Linked DNA regions of Homo sapiens. The protein of the gene in region 4 interacts with the protein of the main gene of each other region in a pairwise test. Each region holds a gene or a part of one and is shown on either strand. Other genes may lie near its edges. The genes, in order: TTF2, SPTBN1, DIXDC1 and CDC5L.

What was found.
Region 1: the proteins of CDC5L (region 4) and TTF2 interact in binary tests that used the Homo sapiens proteins (3 or more experiments, as listed by UniProt).
Region 2: the proteins of CDC5L (region 4) and SPTBN1 interact in binary tests that used the Homo sapiens proteins (3 or more experiments, as listed by UniProt).
Region 3: the proteins of CDC5L (region 4) and DIXDC1 interact in a two-hybrid assay, tested with the Homo sapiens proteins (2 studies listed by BioGRID and IntAct).

Annotation. Positions count from the first base shown.
Region 1 is NC_000001.11:117,091,279-117,098,326, reverse strand, and holds part of TTF2 (transcription termination factor 2), read right to left. Parts: intron 7,000-7,048; coding exon 6,917-6,999; intron 6,511-6,916; coding exon 6,377-6,510; intron 5,597-6,376; coding exon 5,426-5,596; intron 3,685-5,425; exon of another isoform or gene 3,599-3,684; intron 3,019-3,598; coding exon 2,960-3,018; intron 2,179-2,959; coding exon 2,028-2,178; intron 977-2,027; coding exon 894-976; exon of another isoform or gene 122-893; coding exon of another isoform or gene 121-121; exon of another isoform or gene 89-120; intron 1-88. UniProt on the Homo sapiens protein: DsDNA-dependent ATPase which acts as a transcription termination factor by coupling ATP hydrolysis with removal of RNA polymerase II from the DNA template. May contribute to mitotic transcription repression. May also be involved in pre-mRNA splicing.
Region 2 is NC_000002.12:54,669,318-54,671,985, reverse strand, and holds the end of SPTBN1 (spectrin beta chain, non-erythrocytic 1), read right to left. Parts: 3' UTR 540-2,668; downstream 1-539. UniProt on the Homo sapiens protein: Fodrin, which seems to be involved in secretion, interacts with calmodulin in a calcium-dependent manner and is thus candidate for the calcium-dependent movement of the cytoskeleton at the membrane.
Region 3 is NC_000011.10:111,933,220-111,940,345, reverse strand, and holds the start of DIXDC1 (dixin), read right to left. Parts: upstream 3,004-7,126; 5' UTR 2,847-3,003; coding exon 2,787-2,846; intron 1-2,786. UniProt on the Homo sapiens protein: Positive effector of the Wnt signaling pathway; activates WNT3A signaling via DVL2. Regulates JNK activation by AXIN1 and DVL2.
Region 4 is NC_000006.12:44,446,700-44,450,967, reverse strand, and holds the end of CDC5L (cell division cycle 5-like protein), read right to left. Parts: coding exon 4,257-4,268; 3' UTR 543-4,256; downstream 1-542.

The DNA.
Region 1 (7,048 bases), on a different chromosome or scaffold from region 4:
GAATATTCTGTGATTCGATTAAGGAGACTTAATTTGTTTCCTTCTTTATTGATTCCCATTGTAACTCCAAATTAGTTTCTCATCTTACCTCTTTAAAATCTTGGATAACATTTCTCTATCTCTGAAAAAAAAAAAAAAGCATGATTCCTAGTATGCTTTCCTCACTCACGTGTACAGAGGAGTCCCAAGTAAGAACTAAACCCGTTCTCCTGGAAGATGATAACAGGTTGACCTATTTGTACCCATCTGGGCTGTCTGGAGAATTGGACCAATGACAATCCCCAGCAGCAATCCTTGATTGGCATAACTGGAAAACCAGAAACTGGTACTCATTATGAGATTTTCTGTTAGCAACACACTAACTCATTCATTCTGTAGCCACGAAAGATGTGGTTGTACTCCTGGTATTAACACTACATACAATGAATCCAAGGGTGAGGTATTAAGTGTATTTCTAACATAATTAGAAAATCCCTATTCCTTTTCTTTTTGGAGTAATGCTTCTCCCTCTTTTCAAAGGTTGAAATTTCCTTGGACCCCAACAAGTGTGTCTGGAATACAGTATTCTGGAGAAGAGGTAAAACTGAGCAAGGTTAACTCTTAGCCATGAGGAAAAGCTATGCTCCCCGTTTCCATGGAAACAGATGTTAGACTAACAATAACGTGAATGAACTATTTTGAGTAGTCATTTGAAGGCTTGCTAGCTCAGGAATTCAGGGGAGTCAGCTAGCCCTATACCCTGCTTAGATCTGTATCTATAGACACATACAAAGCAAGGCATCTCTGCAATACGAACACAGCAATCAACATAAGAAGTCAGTTCTTGCTGCCCCTGTAGCCCACTGGCCTCCTTGATGTGCTGTGACAACCCAGGACAAATCCGGAATCATTACCAGTGCATGTCCAAAAGAAAGAGGTGATTTCCTCCAGTCAGGTTTAGACCAACACCTCCGGCCAAGAGAGAGATTAGCATTACCTTCAAAAGGAAACACAACATTAACTTTAAACAGACTTGGTCTCGTAACACATCTCGGTCTCAGGTTTAAGTCCACAATCAATACAGATAAGCACTGTGTTCCTATCAAATTTCCTTCTGCTGTTATAAATTGTTTTTTTTTTTAACATTATAATGCTATCTCCCATGTCTCACTTTTGAGAAAATTCTCACATCACATTTTGTGTGTGTGTGAGTCAACCTCAAAAAATTAACTGAGTGCTTGCCAAAATATATAAATACTGTAATTTAGAACCCTGGGGATGGTCAGCTCAATAAACTTTCAATTAACCAGATTATGTTTATTTCATCAGTCCCTACCCCTCCATTGCTACAATAATTCTCCTGCCTATCATTCTACTAATGCTTTCCAAATCTTTATTATCTATAATTAGATGCCTGTGTTCTTTCATTTCCTTCCATATTTCCTCATACCAAAACCCCACCTATCCTTCAAAGCTTGCCTCCTCTGCAAAGATTCCCCTCAACCTAACCAGCTCTGCTGTTAATCTCCTTTTAGTCCTCATATTTGATTCTTTTTAGAATATTTGTGCTCTTTAAAAGTATCCCAATACATGTCTAATAAATTCTAAACACTCGGAGGAATCAAGGCTGTAAATATTTTTAAGTTGCCATATCAGAATTCTCTTTATATGGCTGGGCACGGTGGCTTACGCCTGTAACCCCAGCACTTTGGGAGGCCAAGGCAGGTGGATCACCTGAGGTCAGGAGTTCAAGACCAGCCTGGCCAACATGGTGAAACCTCATCTCTACTGAAAATACAAAAATTAGCCAAGCTTGGTGGCAGGAGCCTGTAATCCCAGCTACTTGAAAGGCTGAGGCAGGAGAATCGCTTGAACCCGGGAGGCGGAGGTTGCGGTGAGCCAAGATAGCACTATTGCAGTCCAGCCTGGGCAACAAGAGCAAAACTCCGTCTCAAAAAGACAAAAACAAAAACCAACCAAACAAAAAGAATTCTCTTTGTATAACTCAGAACAGTTAATTATGCGGCTCTGATGTGACCAGCTTGTACCTGAGGGCCTCTGGAGTGGTTAAATGCCTCTACCAAGTCCATTCTCTGCTTGGGATTGACAGAGCCATCGATGGTGGCATAAGTCAGTCCATGCTTCTTCAGGTGCAATGCTACAACTTTCAGCATGTTGGTCCACTGAGAGACAATGACACTGGAAAGAAGAATAAAATAAAAAAATACCCTAACATAGATTAAACAGACTCATCTGCAGGGCTTTAATGCCCTCATCATTCTTAAGGTTAGCTATCAAATGTTGACAAGGAAAGGCCTTCTGCTACCTAAGGGAGAAGGCACACATTTAGGTCATATCTGAAGATTATAATGCTTCCAGTTATTTCTAGGTCCTTTCTACAATTTATTTAGTGCTAAATGAAGTCAGAAAAAAATGGTAGCTAGAGTAAAGTGATGACTCCAGCCTTCTTTCATTTGGGGTCCTAGTGCTCATCCAGAAATCTGTGGTCCTGCACAAAAGGGACACACTGACCACCCTTCTTGTGCCAGCCAGAACAACAGGCTCCTCCCTGCCCCCACGCTGTCTTAATTCGAGTTCTAAATTTTTATATTGAATTATTTTATAAATAATGCAGGTGTATAGCACATATGTCAGGTATAACAAATGAGTCCTTGTATCCAAGTACTCAGCTTAAGAACGTTATCAGCACTGCTGGAGCCTCCTCACTCGCTTGCTTTTCTTTATATGCTTCTCTACTTTTAAACACTTTTTCAGATGCTTCGCTTACCCTGATCCTCTAGGGATCTCCTTTTCAATTTGTACCACAAATATTTTAATTAGAAATCACAGGGAATGTGTGCTATAACCTCAGTGCTTTCTGCTGAGCATGACTCACAGTCCTTGATTTATAACTCTTGGCAATATCAAATTTTCTCACATAATTATGACCAATACTTGGATAATGAGAAAACGCAGTTACCTCTTTTGGGATGCTGAATTTCTTTGAATTGCCTCCAATTCTGCCAACAGAGATGAAATCTGGGAAAAGGTTACATCAACATTGTATGTTTAAGCAATTCACTTTTCTCCATCTCCCCTCACCTGCCATGCGAAGCAGCCTCCTACATGGCGTCTGTGCTCTGGCCTCACCTGTCTTTATTCCACCCTCCTCTCTGCAGCCAGAAAGCTCTTTCTAAAATGTGAGTTTGTCACTTCACCCCTCTGGCTAAAGCCCTTCCATAGCTTCCCACTGAGGATAAAGGCCAAGCTCCTCAAGGCAGCTTGCCGGATTCTTGCTGCTCCAGCCTCTGCTTCTCTGGGTTCGTTTCTCACCATGCCCTCCTCAAACGACACAGCAAGCACACCAAAATTCTTCCCATAAATCACACACTGGCCATCTTGTCCATTCTGCTCCCTCTGCCTAGAACACCCTTTTGTGTCAGCTTAATGTCACTTCTTCTTGGAGGTCCTCCCAACCCCCAAAGTACAGGTTAGGTGCCCACTGCCCAAGTACTATCATAGCACCTTTTGTTTCTATTATCACGGTCCTTGTCATACTGTATATTAATTGCTTATTATCTCTTGCTTCCAGGACTTGAGACACTCCAAGGAGGCAAATATTAGGAAAGTAACTTCTCTGTTTCGGCCATGTGTGAGGGGCTGTGAGTACACACATGGCCAAAACAGAGAAGATACTCTCCTAATGTTTGCTGAAGAAGAAAGTGAAAGAGCTTTACCCACTTTATGGCCTGCTCCAAATGTTGTTGAAAAGGACCTGTCCAGACGGAGGAACCATTGTTAAAGCTTCCGAACAGGCTCCCTGGGTATTCCCCAAGAACCCTTAGGGTGCACTTGAGTCCACAGGGGAGCTGTCAGTAAGAACACGTGGGGCATGACTTTGGAGTGCAGCTGGGCTCATTCTTCCCAGCTGCTCATGTGAAAAACCTTTCAAGAGCCTCTAAGGGCCCCAGAGTTCACCCCCAGAATGCTGGAGAAGGAAGAAAACTGGGCTGTAAGTCAATCAGGAGACAAATATACAGAAGTTCTTCCTCTGTCCTCATATGGCTGGACCACTTTGGGACTCAGATTCCTCATCAGTGAAAAGAAGGACTTAGGCCAGATAAATTCTGAGGTGCCCTGAGCTCCCACATTCTAGGATGTCATTACAGTGGTCACCACATGGGGCTGCTTTCCAATCTTAACAAACATTCTGGTGCCTAGGCAGGAAGTGAGTCACAGAACTGTACCATTCAAATTAGCAGACAGAAAAGCAGCTACATCTGTTATTTAGTTAACAATAGAACAGAGACACTGATGTGCCTGGTGTCTTGGCAACTTGAGATTGTGGAAGGCGCTGTGACTCCCACATGAAAAAGCTAGCCATGGTGTTTTGAGAAAACTGCAGCAGGAGGGCTGGATTTATGGCCCACGAGCCGGGGTCAAATTCCAGTAAGAAGCCTCCTTCCCTACTTGAAACAACCGTATGTGGTTTGAACTATTAATGGACATATGTTAAGAAAACTTGTGAATAAATATTACCTGCATTTAATTAAACAAGGAACACAAATGATTAGGAATTTAAATTTTAGCCCAATAGCTCACTCTGAAGGCACTAGCATGTGTGTTCTGGCCACATGGGATGCTCTTCTTATGTTTCTCTCAGCTATCAGTGGTAAAGACCTAGGTAAATGTTTTCAAATTTTAATTAAAAGGCAGCATTCCTTTTAAAAAATAATGCCATTCCCCTGGAAGTGACCTTTCTAGTTATTAATACACTTTTTCAAAAAAAGCCTTTGAAGAGAGGTTGAGCCCAAGAACGGCAGCTTGAGATGCTAAGAGAGAAACAAGCCTCACTTTCAAGACAGGCAGGATGATGAAGCACATTCCGAGCCAGCAGACAGGCAGGATTCAGGTTACGGCATATCTAAGCCTTCCTCCAGCAGAATGTTTCTGCCTTAAAAAGCTCTGACGAAAACAGAGCAGAATGACTAATGAAGACAGAAGGCTATGTAGGAAACACTACTCACATGTGGAAGCCTTTCAAAGTCAGAGCAATTGGCGCTCGCATGTATGACACAGTCTCTAGAGTCAAGCCTTTGTTTTCCTTTTAAGCTTTCTCTAAACAAATTGCTCACTTGCATAGGCCCCGTCCCTAGCACAAACCTGGCAAGCTCCCCAGTGACCCATGACAGAAAACCCACTTCAGTGCAATGCTGGGGTTGTCCCAAATTACTCTCTCAAAGTCCCCTATGTAGTAAGGCTTTAGTGTTATCTGTGAAATAAATGAAGCTTTAAGACTGGAGGGAGAATCTGATCAGCTAGAATTTAACGGCTCTAGCTCTGCTGGCAAATGGCTGTTCCCACTTGGACAAATGAAGTGCTGTCACACAGGAAAATGTGTGAGGAATCGAAGTCTCTCGACTACTACAGAGGAGACAAAAAGTACCTTGGTGCTCTCTCGCATGCCTTCAAAAAGCTCCATCTTGAAGAAGGTGCCGTTAAGGGAAACAGTGGAAGATGGCTCTGAGTCACGGAGTTCTGACAAGGTCAAAGCACTGAGCTGTTCTTCCAGGGAAAGGACAAGACCTTCACCCTTCAGTTCCATTGGATCCAGGGCCTGAACAGACAAAAAAGGACAGGAGCAGCTGGGAGTCAAGGGAGCAAACCTTGTTACTTGTTGATGATGTTTTGATTGTTTACCACTTCACAGAGCAAAATATCTTGTAATTTGTCATCAGTAACTCCTCAAGACACCTTGATTAAAGTGTGATCTTGCAAGTTTTTTCACCACATTAAAGATAAACCAAATGATGGAACTTTTTAAAGACTTGCCAGGCAGATGACATAATCATTCTATTTTTTCCAAGCTAGAATATAATTGAGATGTTGATAATCAGAATACATTATTACAGCTCCTTAAATGAATAGAATACTCCTCTTAATTTTGGATGTGCCTCTATCCAAGGTAGGGGCAACTTTTCAGTCTGTATAACTATCTGAGTTTTTATAACTGGAACCCAAAACCCCAAAACTGCCTGAAAGCAGAAAACCCCAAGAACTAAATTAGCTTTATGACATTCTGAAGTACCAGAGCATTCACAAATGGCTTCTTTTTAAACAAAATATCATTTTCTTTTCTTAAACAGTTAATCTAAAACAAAATAAACAATAGAAATACACTATTCTTGATGCCATAGGAATTATCAAGATTAATATGAAATAAAGCAAAATAAATAAGCCCCCTTTTCTCCAACCCACCAAAAAACAAAAATAGAAAAACCGAAACAGCATTTCCTTTGATCAAGCAGACTGGATTCCAGTTGGAGGAGAGTGAAATTGACTTCTCAGGTGGCCCCTCTGGAGCACTATATGACAGCAGGCTGAGGGCTTTTCTTACCGACTTCAGTAAAGAAAGATGACAGCAACACTGGCGGAGTCTCAGCAACTGGGACAGTATGTGGACGGTGCTGGATCTCGGTGAGTCTGCTGCCTCCGAGTGTCTAGGCTCCTCAGACCCAAACTCCAGTGCCACTTCCAAGAGGGAAGACAAGCCACAGGATGGTACAGGATTTAAAAGAGAAATACGGAGAGAGCCAGGAACTACATGGGGCTACTTTAACCATGTTTGATCTCAGACTCAATAATATAGTTACAACTCACTTCTATAGGCCACTTCAATTAGGCCAAATGAAATATCGGTTTTTCCTTATAGAACTACCTGCATTTTAATAAAGCAGATTTAGGAAACAATTAAAAAGAAGCTAAATAAACACCAGATCTCGTGTTTGCAATCAGTAGATTTTACTCTGGTTTGAGGGTCTTAGTTAACGCCAAATCTCTGATACCAAGGATTCATAACCTCACATTTCTGTGTTTTACTGAATCCAAATCCCCATTTTCACCAGTCATATGTATTTATGAGAGTCCTACAGCTTACCTCTACTGAATGGATTATTAGGGCTTCTTCCAGATTGGTTGCCTCTACTTTCATGTCTTTTTAGATAGGATTGCAGAGCTGACCTGCCTCAGATTAAAAAGAAAAAAAATGCATGTATAATGGTCACTAAGA
Region 2 (2,668 bases), on a different chromosome or scaffold from region 4:
CTACCACTGGGGGAAACTGCGTAAACAGCACTGTATTATTTCTTACAACTGCATGTCAGTATACAAGTATTGCAAAATAAAGAGTTAAAAAAAAAAAAAAACTGTTCTCAGTTATTGGTGGTGGTAGTATTAGTATTGCTATTCTGAGTTTTTATAACATGGAATAAAGCAAATGAATAATTTTAAACTATTCTAGTGGAAAATGAAATATTTCACCATGATCTTCAATAGACAGAAATCTCTATTGAGCTTTGATGGAAAGAAGTCTTTTTTCTTCTTTGTTAAAATATGTTTTTGTGTTATGGACCATGTTTAGAAAGGTCAATTCAAAATTATAAAACATATTCACCAAAAAACGAGGATTTCACCAGAAAACTCAAATATATTTAAGCCCATAAATTCATAATATTTAAAAAATTGTTCATCTTTAGAGGATAGGAACCAACTCATAAATAACGCTGATTATAGGAAAGTAATGCAAATAATGGGAAAGACTCCAGCATTGATCCTGCCTTTTCTACATGGACTGCACCACTACATGAAGGGAAGTATGTCTTTATTTAAGAATTCCGACTGATAAAACAATGTATCCAGGGGAACTAACATAGGATCCCCATACACAAGCAATTCTAACAGTTCCAGGAACTTGGTGAAATGACAATGTGCCCATCACCCAGTCTGATACAGTGTTTCACCTACTCAAGATGCCAGGAATTGTAAGAAGCACAGTCACTGGCACTCTCGGTACACCCAAAAAAACCACAGCCAGTTCCGGAAGTGCCATCAGAAGATGCATCCCAACTTGAGATGCTCAAGTAGGACAAAAAGTGGCCTTGATTCAAGTGACAACGCCATTTCATATCCTAAGCCTTATTTTCACTACTTCTTACTCTTCAGATTTATGGAGGGGCCAGTATTGTCACCCATATTGTATCACTGAAAATCAGGGTAAAATAGCACAGCATTATGGCAACAAGAAATATGCAAAATCCTCAAAAAACATGATAGTGGAAGAATAAAAAAAAAACAAAAAACCCAAAAACTATTTACCCTGCCAGGCTTGAAGCTCATCAGGCTGTGCGGCCTGTAACCTCTGATGGCGAACACGTCTTGACTGGGGTCTTCTGACGCTCCTCTCGCTGCCCATCATCTTCCACATTCAGGCCTCAGTGGATCCTTATCAAATGCACCAAGAGAGAGCAAATACCACCAAACCCTGGCTTCATAACTACAGATCTGCGAACTGTTGAAATTATGTGCACGATGTTCCACATGTACGTATTTATTATGGGACTCCAGGATTGCTGGTATGAACTTATTGCCATCTGCACAGCTTTGTCAAGAGTACAAGACTGTAATTAATCACAATTGTTTCCAAGATACTTTGCCTTAACTAAACATTTTGGTCTGTTGAGAATAGAACAACTTGATTCCAACCCTGAGCATGGCAAGGGCAAAGGACTGTCGTGGGAAGCAGGGGAGAGGATGGTGAGGTCTCAGTTTGCCTAGAGGTAAGAGAGTTAAGAGAAAGCTTTGATGCCACGCAGCTGTGGAGCCCAGGGCTGATGCCACCTTAGGCATGGTCTTTGTGGAATAACTTACTGGACATCCATAATACTAATATCCATTGCTGCTTTATGCAAGTGGCATGGAGTCAACATACCCAGATAACCCAGGAAAAGTATGTCACTTGTAAATAACCCACGACTCTATGCTGAAGTCAGCAAACTATGGCCCATGGGCCAAACCTAACCTCTTGCCTGTTTTTTTTTTTTCTTCTTTTTGGTCTGATCTGTATAAAATAGACTTTACATTTTGAAATCATTAAGAAAATCAAAATATTGTATGGCATGTCAAAGTTATATGAAATTCAAATTTATGTCCTTAAATAGTTTTACTGGAACACAGCCATGCCCAGGCATTCACATACCGTCAATGGCTGCCTTTGTATTACGCAACAGCAGAATTGAGCAACAGAGACAGTTACGGCCTACAAAGCCTAAAATATTTACTATCTCTGTCCCTTTACAGAACAAATTTGCCAACCCCTATCTCAGAGTTCAGGTTTCACAAGTGCTCTGGTAACTTTTTCATAAATAAAAGATAAAGCCTGAATGTATAACTACAAAACAGTCACATTTATTACTGTTTGCTGTAGTTTTCAAAGCTTGTGCACCAGACATGCATAAAAAATGCAAAAGTGAGCCCAGACTGGTTGTAAAATGTTTCTTGTTTGTCATTTCTCCCTTTGCAGTTTCCCTACTGGGCATGCACACGCAGCAGAGGAAGAACAACAACTAGTCACCGTGCTAGATTTAAAAGCATTTAATGACATAGCATATATTTAACAGATAGGGCAAAAGTTGAGAGGTACAGGTCGTACGACTGAGCACCAGGCCTGAGCGACCACCTCCCTGTTCAGGCCCAGCCTCTGGAGTTCATTCCTATCAATGTCATTTTGATTGTGCAGTAAGATGAAAATTTGTCATTACAATAGTTACAGTGACAGAGAAATGCACACTATGTATCAAATAGCAAGGAAATGAAGCAAATTATAACACAGTGTGGCAACGCACGAGCAAGTAACCATTAGAGTAACATTACTTTGTCCAGTAAATGCTTCAGTTCCACCACTTGTACACTTACCAATGATTTAAAGGGTTTATTA
Region 3 (7,126 bases), on a different chromosome or scaffold from region 4:
GATAATTTGCCATCCAAATTAACCATGCCATTCAAAGGCATTGCATTGAAAGCACTGACAAGGATCAATTCCGTGAGTTATTTGCCAGACATGTTGAGGCCAGGGCTCTGTGTAGGAAATGCGGTAAGAGAAAACTCTGTCATGCATGGCTATACATAGTGGCAAAGGATTGAGAACAGAAGCCAACAGTGGGTAGAGGGAAGCCAGGATTCAGAGGGCAGGGTTTCTCTCTGCTGCAGGGTTCCCTTATAATTAACCAATTAAGGCCAAAGCTCCATTCCCTGTGGCAGTTTTCTCTGCCATAGAGAATGAGGTCACAGCCCTAACTACACAGACCTATAAGGCATCTGGGTGATGAAGAATAGCTTTAGATGTACTTGGATCATTCCCAGGAGGTGACTGGATACATGTGTGGTATTTGTAGACTCAGTAGGAATTCTCAGAAGAATTAAAGCGTATTCTGACACTAGCTTTTAAATCACTGTTTACATCCTTATCTCAAGGACTCTAAAAAAATAAATTGATATTACTGGATCGATTAAGCAACCCTGGAGGCTGGAATAGGTCAAATAGGGCCCCATGGACTCTAAAATAACCAATTACACTATTATTCAGTAGCACTAAATGTAATATTGTATGTAAAATGAATTATTTAATATAGAATGTGAAAGAATTATTTAAACTGTAAGGAACCATTCAAATTTAACATATTACTGTCATTGTTATTTAGATGATGTCAATTTTTCAGAGAAATCAAAAGTACTCATTGGCTGTCAGAGTTCAAATCTAACAGAGAGGAACAGACGTACACTAGCTTGTGGAGGGGATGGAGGGAAGTTTACAGAATGGGTAGAAAAATCAAATATCAGAGAAGGAAAAGAGGCACTACTGCATTATTCTAGGGATCAATTAATTAAAAAGTTATGCATCTGTTGTTTTTATGAAGATTCCATTACCACCACAAAAAGACCACTCTCCCATTCCCCTTTTCCCTTATGCCCTTATGTTTTTCAAGAATTGGAGGTCAGGGGATATTTATGGAAGCACCAAAGCATGAAACACACGGCCAAGCCTCTTAGTTTAGGTGGCTCTTCAGTCGAAAGGTTTCGAAGTGAAAATGAGCAGAAAACTAAGATTAGGACCAGCTCTGTGCTGGTTTCCTCCTCTTAAACAGACAGTGGGACCATCAAGAGCTGAGTTTTGTTGTTGTTGTTAAGTTGGGGCAGGAGGTATAAGACAACTAAAAGAGCTTCTGCCACAGTTGGTGAATGAGTCAGACTTACGCAGCTAAAGACCAGGGGCAGCCCAAAGGCAGAGAGTGAGAAAAGAGGAACCAGAATATTGGAATCACTCAGAGGTAGGCTTCCCGGCTCTTCTGTGTTTCAACTCTTAGACTACAGCTCTTTGTTAACAATCCCCTTACGTGTGTTCAGACAGGAAGGATGCAAAGATGAGGTGCCCTGCAGTGCAGACAGGATGCAAGCTCCGCCCTTCAGTGAAGGTTGTGACACCCCTTGGCCAAAGGAAAATTCCAACTCGGTTAGGTTGGGACAGCATTTCTGCAGTTTTCCTCTGTGTTAGGAACAACGCTAGGGCACGGGGGCCAGACCAGGGGAGGGTTCTGTGGCAGGTCAGGCTGCAGAGCTTCTTAATTAGAAACAGGAATTAAGGAAGGAGTCTGTAGTGCAGCTGGAGAAATAAAATCTTATACACGAATTCATGAGAATGGTTATTTCTGGAGAAAAGGCTGGAATGGGTGGGGGGAGCCAAAGGCACTTCAGTCTTGCCTATCAAATGCTCATATTTAAGAAGACAATGTATTCATATGTTGAGTAAAAACTGATTTTAAAAATCTTAAATTTCAGAGAGTCACAGAGAGAAGAAAGAGAGAGATGGAAGGAAAAGGAGCGAGAGAGAAATGAAGAAAGACACAACTAACAGCCTAGGTTTCCCTGGATGCTGGGCTAAGACAACCCGCAAGAGTAGGGCTTAGCTGCAGTCGAAGACGTATGGAGCAAATCTTGAGGGGGAAGCATCCCAAACCAGAATTTCCTGGGTCACAAGAAAAGCAAATGCAATAAACAGAATTGTAAGAGAAACAAGTGGGGAGGAAATGACCCCTTGTCGGCCCTAGCCCATCTTGCCTGTCAGAGTGAGGCCCCAGTTCCTCTGCTCTCACATGGACCGGTGCACGCGCTGGCTCCCTGGACCCAGGACCCAGGTCCCCTCTCGCTCAGTAGCTCCTCTCAGACAACCATGTCCTTGATTGCAGAGAAATCTACTGCCCCGCACTCAGAAAGAGATTCAGACATGAAGAGGGCACTTCACATGGACCATCTACAGTCCCCTGCCCTCTCAAACTTTCTACCAATGCAGTACCACTCCACCCTCCCTTGGCTCCGCTGGTTAGCTCCTGATATAGATGAGCACTTTTGCCAAATATCCAGGGATTCCCTGAGGATTTCCTTGGAGAGAGAAGCTCTAGGGAGGATGGAGACCCCCTCTTCTGGAAGGAGGTGATTTCTGAATTTGTGGTCCTGTCCTCTTGGGCTCAGGTAAGCTACCAGGGAAGGTCATGGCCCAGCTTAGCTGTGGGCAGGCAGCCCTTCTGATTTCTCCTGGTTCACCCATCTGCACCGTAAGTACCACCTTAGCCCCTTTGGGGTTCTGGGGGCGATTTGCTCTGGGGTCCCCAAAGGATGGAGGAGGAGGAGGACCCCTTCCGGAGACTGGGCGGGAGACGCTGGGGGAGGGGAGCTGAGGAGTGGGAGGAGCAGGACAGTTACCTCATTGAAGCCCTCCTGCAGGACGTCCAGTAAGTTCCCTCGGGTCAGGCAGGCTAGCATTGTTCCTGCTGGGGGCTCCCCGGGCGGGGTCTCCAGCCCGGCGGCCGCCGCCGCCTCCTCCTCCTCCCTCTGCACACAAAGGCTCTCGGCTCAGCTCATTGGGATCCCTCCGGAGTCCCGCATGCCACTTACTGGAAACCTAGACTGGAGCCAAACTAGCGGCTTGCACTGGGCATGCTCGCACGGGGGCCTCCGCTGGAGGGGCCCGGCGCGGTCGCGGTTCCTATGGAAACAACTGGGCGCGCACTAGGTTGAGCGGCGCTGCCGGGCTGCCCCCAGCCCCGCTTTCCTGCGGGAAAGCCGCACGGCCAGGCGGGCTGGCGAGGGCGCGCGCTGCACGCCCGCACGCACGCGCACACCCCCCCCCCGCCCGGGCCGCAGCACGGGCGTGTGTGCGTGCGCTACACACACACACACTCACACGGCTTTTAGGCAAACGTGCTGCTGTATGTGCGCGCTGTGTGCATACACACACACACACACATACACACATACACACATACACACACACACGTTGACAAACAGGCGGCCCGGCTGGCGTATGCATGCGCTTGCAGCCGCGCGCGCGCACACACACACCAGGCTTGCAGGCGGGTGTGCCCGTGGGGAGGGTGCGCAACACACACACACACACACACACACACACACACACACTGCTAACTTAAGGCCACAAACGGCCCACCAGAAGGTGGGTGGGAAAGGGAGTGAATCATAGGATTTTCCCCCAGACTAACCGAAAACAGCAACCTTTTTCCACATGGGCCCTGGACAGTGAGGTCAAGCTAAAGAAGAGGAAGCAGAAGGGAAAGAAATAAGAAAGAGAAAGAGCAGAGGAAGAAAGGGGGAAAAGAGGATAAAAAGAACTTTAGTTATTGATGGTATCAGAACACATTCAATAGAACAGTGCTAAACATCACGCAGGATCGCAACAGAAACATCAAGGATGACCAAGCCTTTTCCAAAATTTTCCTATTTCATTCTTTATAAAATAACTGCTAAAATATACAACCCATATTTTAATGTGTTTTAAAATAAATGGGCTTTAATTAAAATAAAGACTGCAAAAATGTCCTGGTGCATTTGAAAGAGGTAAAAAGCTTCCTCAAGTGAAACAGAAAGCTATTCTAGGCTGTTTCTAGCTATTCAAGTCATAGCCTTGATTATTTATTTTTAGGAATACTAGTCATTTGCAACTCAGTGCAAACTCTTGTTTCTATAGGAAAACTCGAAGCTGAAAAAACATTCATTTTACATTCCACCTCGTGATCCCAGATGGAGAGGAAGGGTTTACAGAGCATTAGGGCTCAGAGAAGGTCAGGGCCTTGTCCAAGGACGCAGCCAATCAGTGACAGGCAGCTCAAGGATCTAGGAGTCTACACTTATGATTTTCTGGAAGACCCAGATTCCTCCTCAAATCCTGATTAGTACCTTAGCCAGAAAAGTCAGTAATGGCTCTTATTCAACCTAATGACCTCTTCAGGTCCTTAGAGAAAAAGAAAATCCACCAAGAGCAGCCAGGCTAGCAATATCTTGTCTGAATGTCTAAAGCTGCTAAACACAAAGATGTTTCTGAAAAAGAACACATCTCCCTGACCACAACAGGCAGGGGGCAGAGGGCCAGCACAGGTGTTGAGTGGCAGCTGCTGGTTGAATGTAGTGGGTTCAATTCTGGCTAATGCTGGGGAAAAGCTAAGACACCAAATCATTCTAAACCTGAGCAGCCCACAAGTCCAAAGACCACTGTCCTTCATAATCTAGCTGAGGAATTTAACTGCCAAGAACTCCCTTTGACACTACCACACTTCGTGGTGTAACACCCCCGGAGAGTCACTAACCCATGTCAATTCAACAAGTTCCTTTATAAAGAGAAGCATGAAATTTCCAACAGCACAGACTTGCATGCAATACATCTACGTGCATAATGATGCAAAACCAAAGTACCTACTTGGTGGATCCCTGGGTAGAGGATCCTGATTGGTTGAGAGCCCCTCATGCTTTGTACACAGAGCAGAAAATATTGAGACATCAGAGGGAGATCCTGCTGACAGTTATCTATGCCAGAGGTCAGCGTTTCTCAAACAAGTCTTTGATCAAAGTAGGATCTGTGAGCTCAGTGTTTCTGGAAAAAGACTTATGAAATCACTGAATTTTAAAGCTCCAAAACATTTTGGCCCAACTTCCTTACTTGGCCCAAGTCCCTTATATCATAGAAAAAGCAACCAAGGCTAGGAGAGGTGCTCACAGTCACTCAGCAAGTCAGTATGGAAACTAAGATCTGAACCAGAGGGCTCTGAGGTCTGATCCTGTGCTCTTTGCACTGCCCATCACAGCATGCTGGAGGAATTAAGAGAGAATTGTAGTGAATTGATTTTTTAAAATGTATTATAAGGCATATGGTCCAATATTGCACTATTCCCTAAAAGTCTATAACTATACAAACCACATATTCTAGAGCAATGGTGTTCACTAGGACTGTCTGTGAAGATGGAAATGTTCTATATCTATGCTGTACAATATAGTGGCCATACGTGGCTACTGAGCACTTGAACTACAGCTAATGCAACTGTGGAACCAAAATTTTAATGGCATCTAATTTTGATTTAAATAGTACAATTTCAAAATATTCATTCTATTGTTCCCATATGACTATTAAGATGTGTTCCAAAAATTATACTATTTTACATAGTCTGCCTCTCACATTTGGAAAAAGCACAAAATTCCTGTCAGACCATATAATGTCCATTTTTTTTTTTGCTCAGAAGAGATGTTCACCACAGTTATCTTAGTTGGCCTTACAAAGTGGCTCAGATGAAGAACTGAGCTTTAGCTCCAAACAACACTAACATTTAGTATTCCTTCCATCCTCCCGATCCCACCATGTTGTAATATCAACATAAGAGCTGGGAGAGTATGAGGGCTAGCTACAAGAACTAGGAATAACTGGGACAATGATCAGGCATCCCATAGTGTTTGTATGTGGGAAAACTGCAAGCCATCTGGGTAGCTGGAACCACTTCTGCTGCTGCAGGGCTGTCATTCACTCTGCCTGGAAGCAGAGGCAAAGAAACCCAGCAAACTGCTTTCTGCATATCCCTGCCATGCTGCCTGATTTCTGAACTTATACCTGGCTTCCTCAGTCCTGCATTATTTTGACAATAATGGCAGACATTTCCCCCACAAACTAAAAGCTACCCAAATATCTATATATAACAGTAATAATAGCAAAATTGAGCTTTTACTGTGTGCCAAACCCTGTACTCAGCACTTAGTATTAGCTCATTTGACTGTCACAATTACCATAAACAGTAGGATTTTTACATATAAAGAAAGAGAGGTTTGGAGAAGTAATTTGTCACAGACCCAATAGCTACTAAATGGTGAAGCCAAAGTCCAGGTTCTTAACCATTATGCAATACTGTCATATGAAGAATGCAACATTACATTACATAAGAATGCAAGATTACATTACAAAAATGTAAATCTATTTTTACTTGAAGGAATGAATGAGCCAGTGGGAGAAACATTAATCACGTCTGTTAATAAATAGAGTAAGATGTTAGCCTAAGTAAGACTTTGAGCCTTAAAATAAAACCATCATTTGGTGAAAATATTGCCTGTGACTTCTCTCTGCATAAAAATAAGAAGTGTGAAATTCAAATCTATATAAAATGTAACACAACTATTATGGCCAATAATTCATGACTATAAAGAAACAGAAAGGCAGTTTGAATAAACAAATAATTACAATTGTCAATAAAAATATTTTAAATGACCCTTGGAATAATGTCTTTTTTTTTTTTTTTTTTTTGAGAGAGAGAGAGACAAGATCATCTCACTCTGCTGCCCAAGCTAGAATGCAGTGGCACAAAAAAATTACAAAATTAATACAAAAAAATACAAAAATTAGCCACTCATGGTGGTATGTGCCCATAGTCCCAGCTACTCAGGAGGCTGAGGTGGGAGGATCGCTTGAGCCCGGGAGGTTGAGGCTACAGTGAGCCGTGACTGCACCACTCCACTTCAGCCTGGGCAAGAGTGAGACACTGCCTCAAAAAAAGAGAAAAGGTCCGGGAGCGGTGGCTCACGCCTGTAATCCCAGTATATTGGAAGGCCAAGGCGGAAGGCGGGCAGATCACCTGAGGTCAGGAGTCCGAGACCAGCCTGACCAACATGGAGAAACCCCCTCCCTACTAAAAATACAGAATTAGCCGAGCATGGTGGCGCATGCCTGTAATCCCAGCTAATCTGGAGGCTGAGGCAGAAGAATCGCTTGAACCTGG
Region 4 (4,268 bases):
AAAAAAAAAAAAAAAAAATTTAAGCCAACCATACAGATATTTTGAAAAACTTAATTATTGAACCAGAAATTTAAAACACAATGATATACTACTTAGAAAACAAGACTACTACATATCAAAATGGCTGGGATGTGAACATATTTGAACTCAAAGGACAGTTCAAAAGTCTTCAACACATTCATTTGTATACAAGCAAAAAATAAGCATCAGTCTCAAAAAGTCAAAAAACTACAGAAAACAAAATAATAAGCCTAAATTGAGAAATTAACATATTTTAAAACAAAATCACAATAGATAAGCCAATAAAAACACTAGTTTTCTGAACAGAAAATGTATACCCTTAACAAGTCTAGTCAAGTAAAAAGTGGTAGAATTAAGAGAAGGTAAATTTCCTATAACTTAGAAATGGCAAAGTTAATAGAAAAGAAATTGCTATTAGAATTTTCTGCTAACAACAGATGTTTAAATTTGAACAAAATAAAAATATTTCTTAAAAAGTATACATTACCTAAATTTACTAAATAAACATAAAAGGAAGAATATATTTTAAAAACAATTTTTTTAATTTAAAGTTGCTTAAATTTAAAAATAGGTAACATAATAGTCACAAAAGAAACTGACAGTTATAAAGAAATTATTTCCAGAAAGCACTGTGAACTCAAAAGTTCTGTAAGTACAGACTTTCAACCTTTCATGAACAAATCATTCCCATGTTATAACTGCTTAATGCACAGAAAAAGATATACAGTTATCCTATTTACTTTAGAGAGCTAGCAAAATCCCAATATCAAAATACAATAACCAGGCTGGGCATGGTGGCTCACACCTGTAATTCTAGCACTTTGGGAGGCCGAGGTAGGTGGATCACCTGAGGTCAGGAATTCAAGACCAGCCTGGCCAACATAGCAAAACCCCATCTCTACTAAAAACACAAAAATTAGCCAGGTGCGGTGGCACATGCCTGTAGTCCCAGCTACTTGGAAGGCTGAGGCAGAGAATCACTCGAGCCCAGGAGGCAGAGGTTGCAGTGGGCCAAGATTGCACTACTGCACTCCAGCCTGGGTGAGAGAGCAAGACTCCATCTCAAAAAAAAAAAAAAAAAAGTACAATAGCCCAAAAGACCAATCTCACTAATGTAAAAATGTAAATTTCCTAAATAAAAGATTAGTAAATCAAATTCAAATGCATTTCTAGGGAGGATGCATGGTTGGCCAACATTAAGTCTGCAGTCACTGTAGTGTAGTTTTTCTTTGATGTCGTTTTTTATTAGACAGCATTATGTCTCTAATATTTCAAAAAGGACTCTCCCTTGTGGTGGTTTCTTTCAGCTTTTTATCACATTTTATTTCTATCCCAAAGTTACTGAGACTTTAACATGCTTAACACAAGTTTTAACAATACCTTAATGAATGCCTTAACAACCAATACCTTAGTGAACAATACCAATGTGAATGTTATTTTTATTATTATTTTTTAATAGAGACAGGGTCTCACTATGTTACCCAGGCTAATCTTGAACTCCTGAGCTCAAATGATCCTCCCACCTTGGCCTCCCAAAGTGCTAGGATTACAGGCATGACTCACCACCCCTGGCCTCAGTGTGAATGTTAAAATAGTCACCAAAATCGCTGTATGGTGCTGGTAAAGAATCCTGGGCTTTACAGGATACTGACAAAGGATAACAGTGTGTCTGTTCACCATTTCAAGTGGCACCACTACCTGGCAAATGCATATGCAGTTTACAATGTGCCAGTTTTGAAATTTTGTAATTCCTGCCGATTTTTTTAGGCTATAAGTATGTGAATTACTTCAAATTTTGAAAACAAAGTGAGCCTTTATTAATATTAGATCAACTTTTAAATCCATATAATTCAAGTCTACAAAAAGTGCAAATAAACTATAAATCCTTTAAAATTTCTTTTAAAAATTAATCTACCTGATTCCAGGAGTGCAAAGATGATTTAATGTGGGAAAATCTATTAATATACCTCATCAAAACATCAAATGAGAACAATTATATGAATGCTTTAATAGATGCCCAAATGGTATACTGTTTAAAGTTCCAGAGCCATTTCTAATTCAAACTCTTTAAAAACTAAAAGAGAGACACTGTCTTTCAGATAAAGACTATCTAACTCCCAACAGCAAACTTAAAACTATGGACATTCCCATTAAAATAAGAAAAAAAAATGTCTAACATCATTATTGTTAACATTGTCCTAAACATTTCAGATAACAAAACATGCAATAAAAGTGAAATAAAACTATCAGAAGAAACACTATCATTATTCACTGATGATACTGAAGTTTTTCCTAGAAAACCCAGAACTTACTGAAAAAAGTATTTGAATTAAGTGACTACACACCAGGAAAATATCAATTTATCGTCTGATAAGACTATTAAGTATATACCTATCATGTCTCTCCACATATCTCCACTACTATTACCTGGACTCTAGTTAGAATCACTATTATTTTTTTGTCTGGATCACTGCATCAGGCTCCTAATTGGACTGGCTTCCCTATCTCCAGCCTGGTGAGATTTTACACACTAAGGAGATAGTGATGTTTCTAAAACCAAATCTGATCATGTCATTCCTTTGCTTAGATCTTCTCATCGATTCTTATCATATTTAAAGTAAGATCCAAATTCCTTATTATAGCCTTATTTATGTGGCTCTATACAACGAGGTCTTATATACAGAAATGCCATTCTTGACACTCTAGCTGCATTGTCCTTTTTGTTCCTCAAACATACAAAAGAGGCTTTATGTTTGCTATTCACTCCACCTAGGATGTTCTTTCCTTGAATCTCACAAGGATAGCCCATTCTAAAATGTCAATCACATGTTATCTTAAATGTTACTTCTTTAAGAGGTCTCTTTGGCCGTGCAGCTTATAGTGGTACGGTGCGGCACAGTGCAGTGGTATAGTGGTGAGCATAGCTGCCTTCCAAGAGGTCTCTTTGATCGTCCAGTCTAAAATAGCCACTCATTCACTATCTCATAATCACCCTACTTTAATTTCCTCCACAGAATCTAAAACTCATGGTCTGATACTTTCCCTGGACATACTTAGTATCTCCTCCCCACTAATGTCACCTCCATGAGAGCAAGAACTCTGTCTTAATAACTGCTTATCTCCCAACACTTAAGTGTCTGACACATAAGAATCACCAAATAAACATTTGGATTTTAATTGTCTGTCATTCTCAAAAGACTATAAGCTCTACTAAACAAGAACTAGGCCTATTTTGTTTGTTGTTCTCTCTCTAAGACTCTGGCACAGGGTATACATTCAATATCGAATGAATGAATGAATCCCTTCCCTTCCTATAGTCCCTAGTATTCTAAGACTGGGCAAACGTTTTTGGTGATGTCAAAACATTGCTAGTCTATAATGAGCTTGTAGCCAACTGATACTGTAACTAAATCAATTTATATGAATTATATAAAATTAAATATCTCCACCTCTATCCATTCCCCAAATTCTACACTGATGTAACTGACTTCTTAGGCTAAACATAGAGCTTTAAGTTTGATGGCCTTCTTGAAATTAACTTTTAAAATGCCTTTGTCAAAAAATACTTATAAGAAAATAATGGGGCAAGGAAGTTAAATCTTTTAAGCCCTGACCCATAAATTATTTAAGTAGCTGGCAGACAAGAGACCTTCTTTAAAGTGATATTAACAAAAAAAAAATTTGAGGTACTAAAAAGTTAATCTAACTTGTCAGTGTATACAGAAATGACCACTCTTTGCTGAAACTAACAAAGCCACAAAGAACTGCCTCTTAAGTGTTTAAGATACTGCATCACCATTTTGATTACCCAAGAGTTACTCATTAAATATGACACAGAGTACATAGCTGCTGGTTTGCAGGCACTCTTAAGTATCTAATTACTTCAAACAAAAGGCTACATTCTCAATTTTTTATATTTTGTTTTTATTCAAGAGTTACTCACAGGCAGCACTTTAAAATTAGGCTTTTTAAATTAAAGGCCAAAACTAAAAAAGTTTGCAAATATGACATTACTAAAAGAATGATAGCCTTAATAATTTAAACTCTAAAATGTCCGTCCTGTGGAGTTAAGGTCTTTATACACAGAATGTGTAAGATCGATATCATTTAAAATAAACAACTGAAAAACCACAGATGGTGGGTAAATTTGTCAATGAAGATAAACATCAGTTTCAGCCTTCTAGAGTATGAAAACCGGCAATTAATTAATCCTGTGACAGAATATAAACTGTACTTCAGAATTTTGA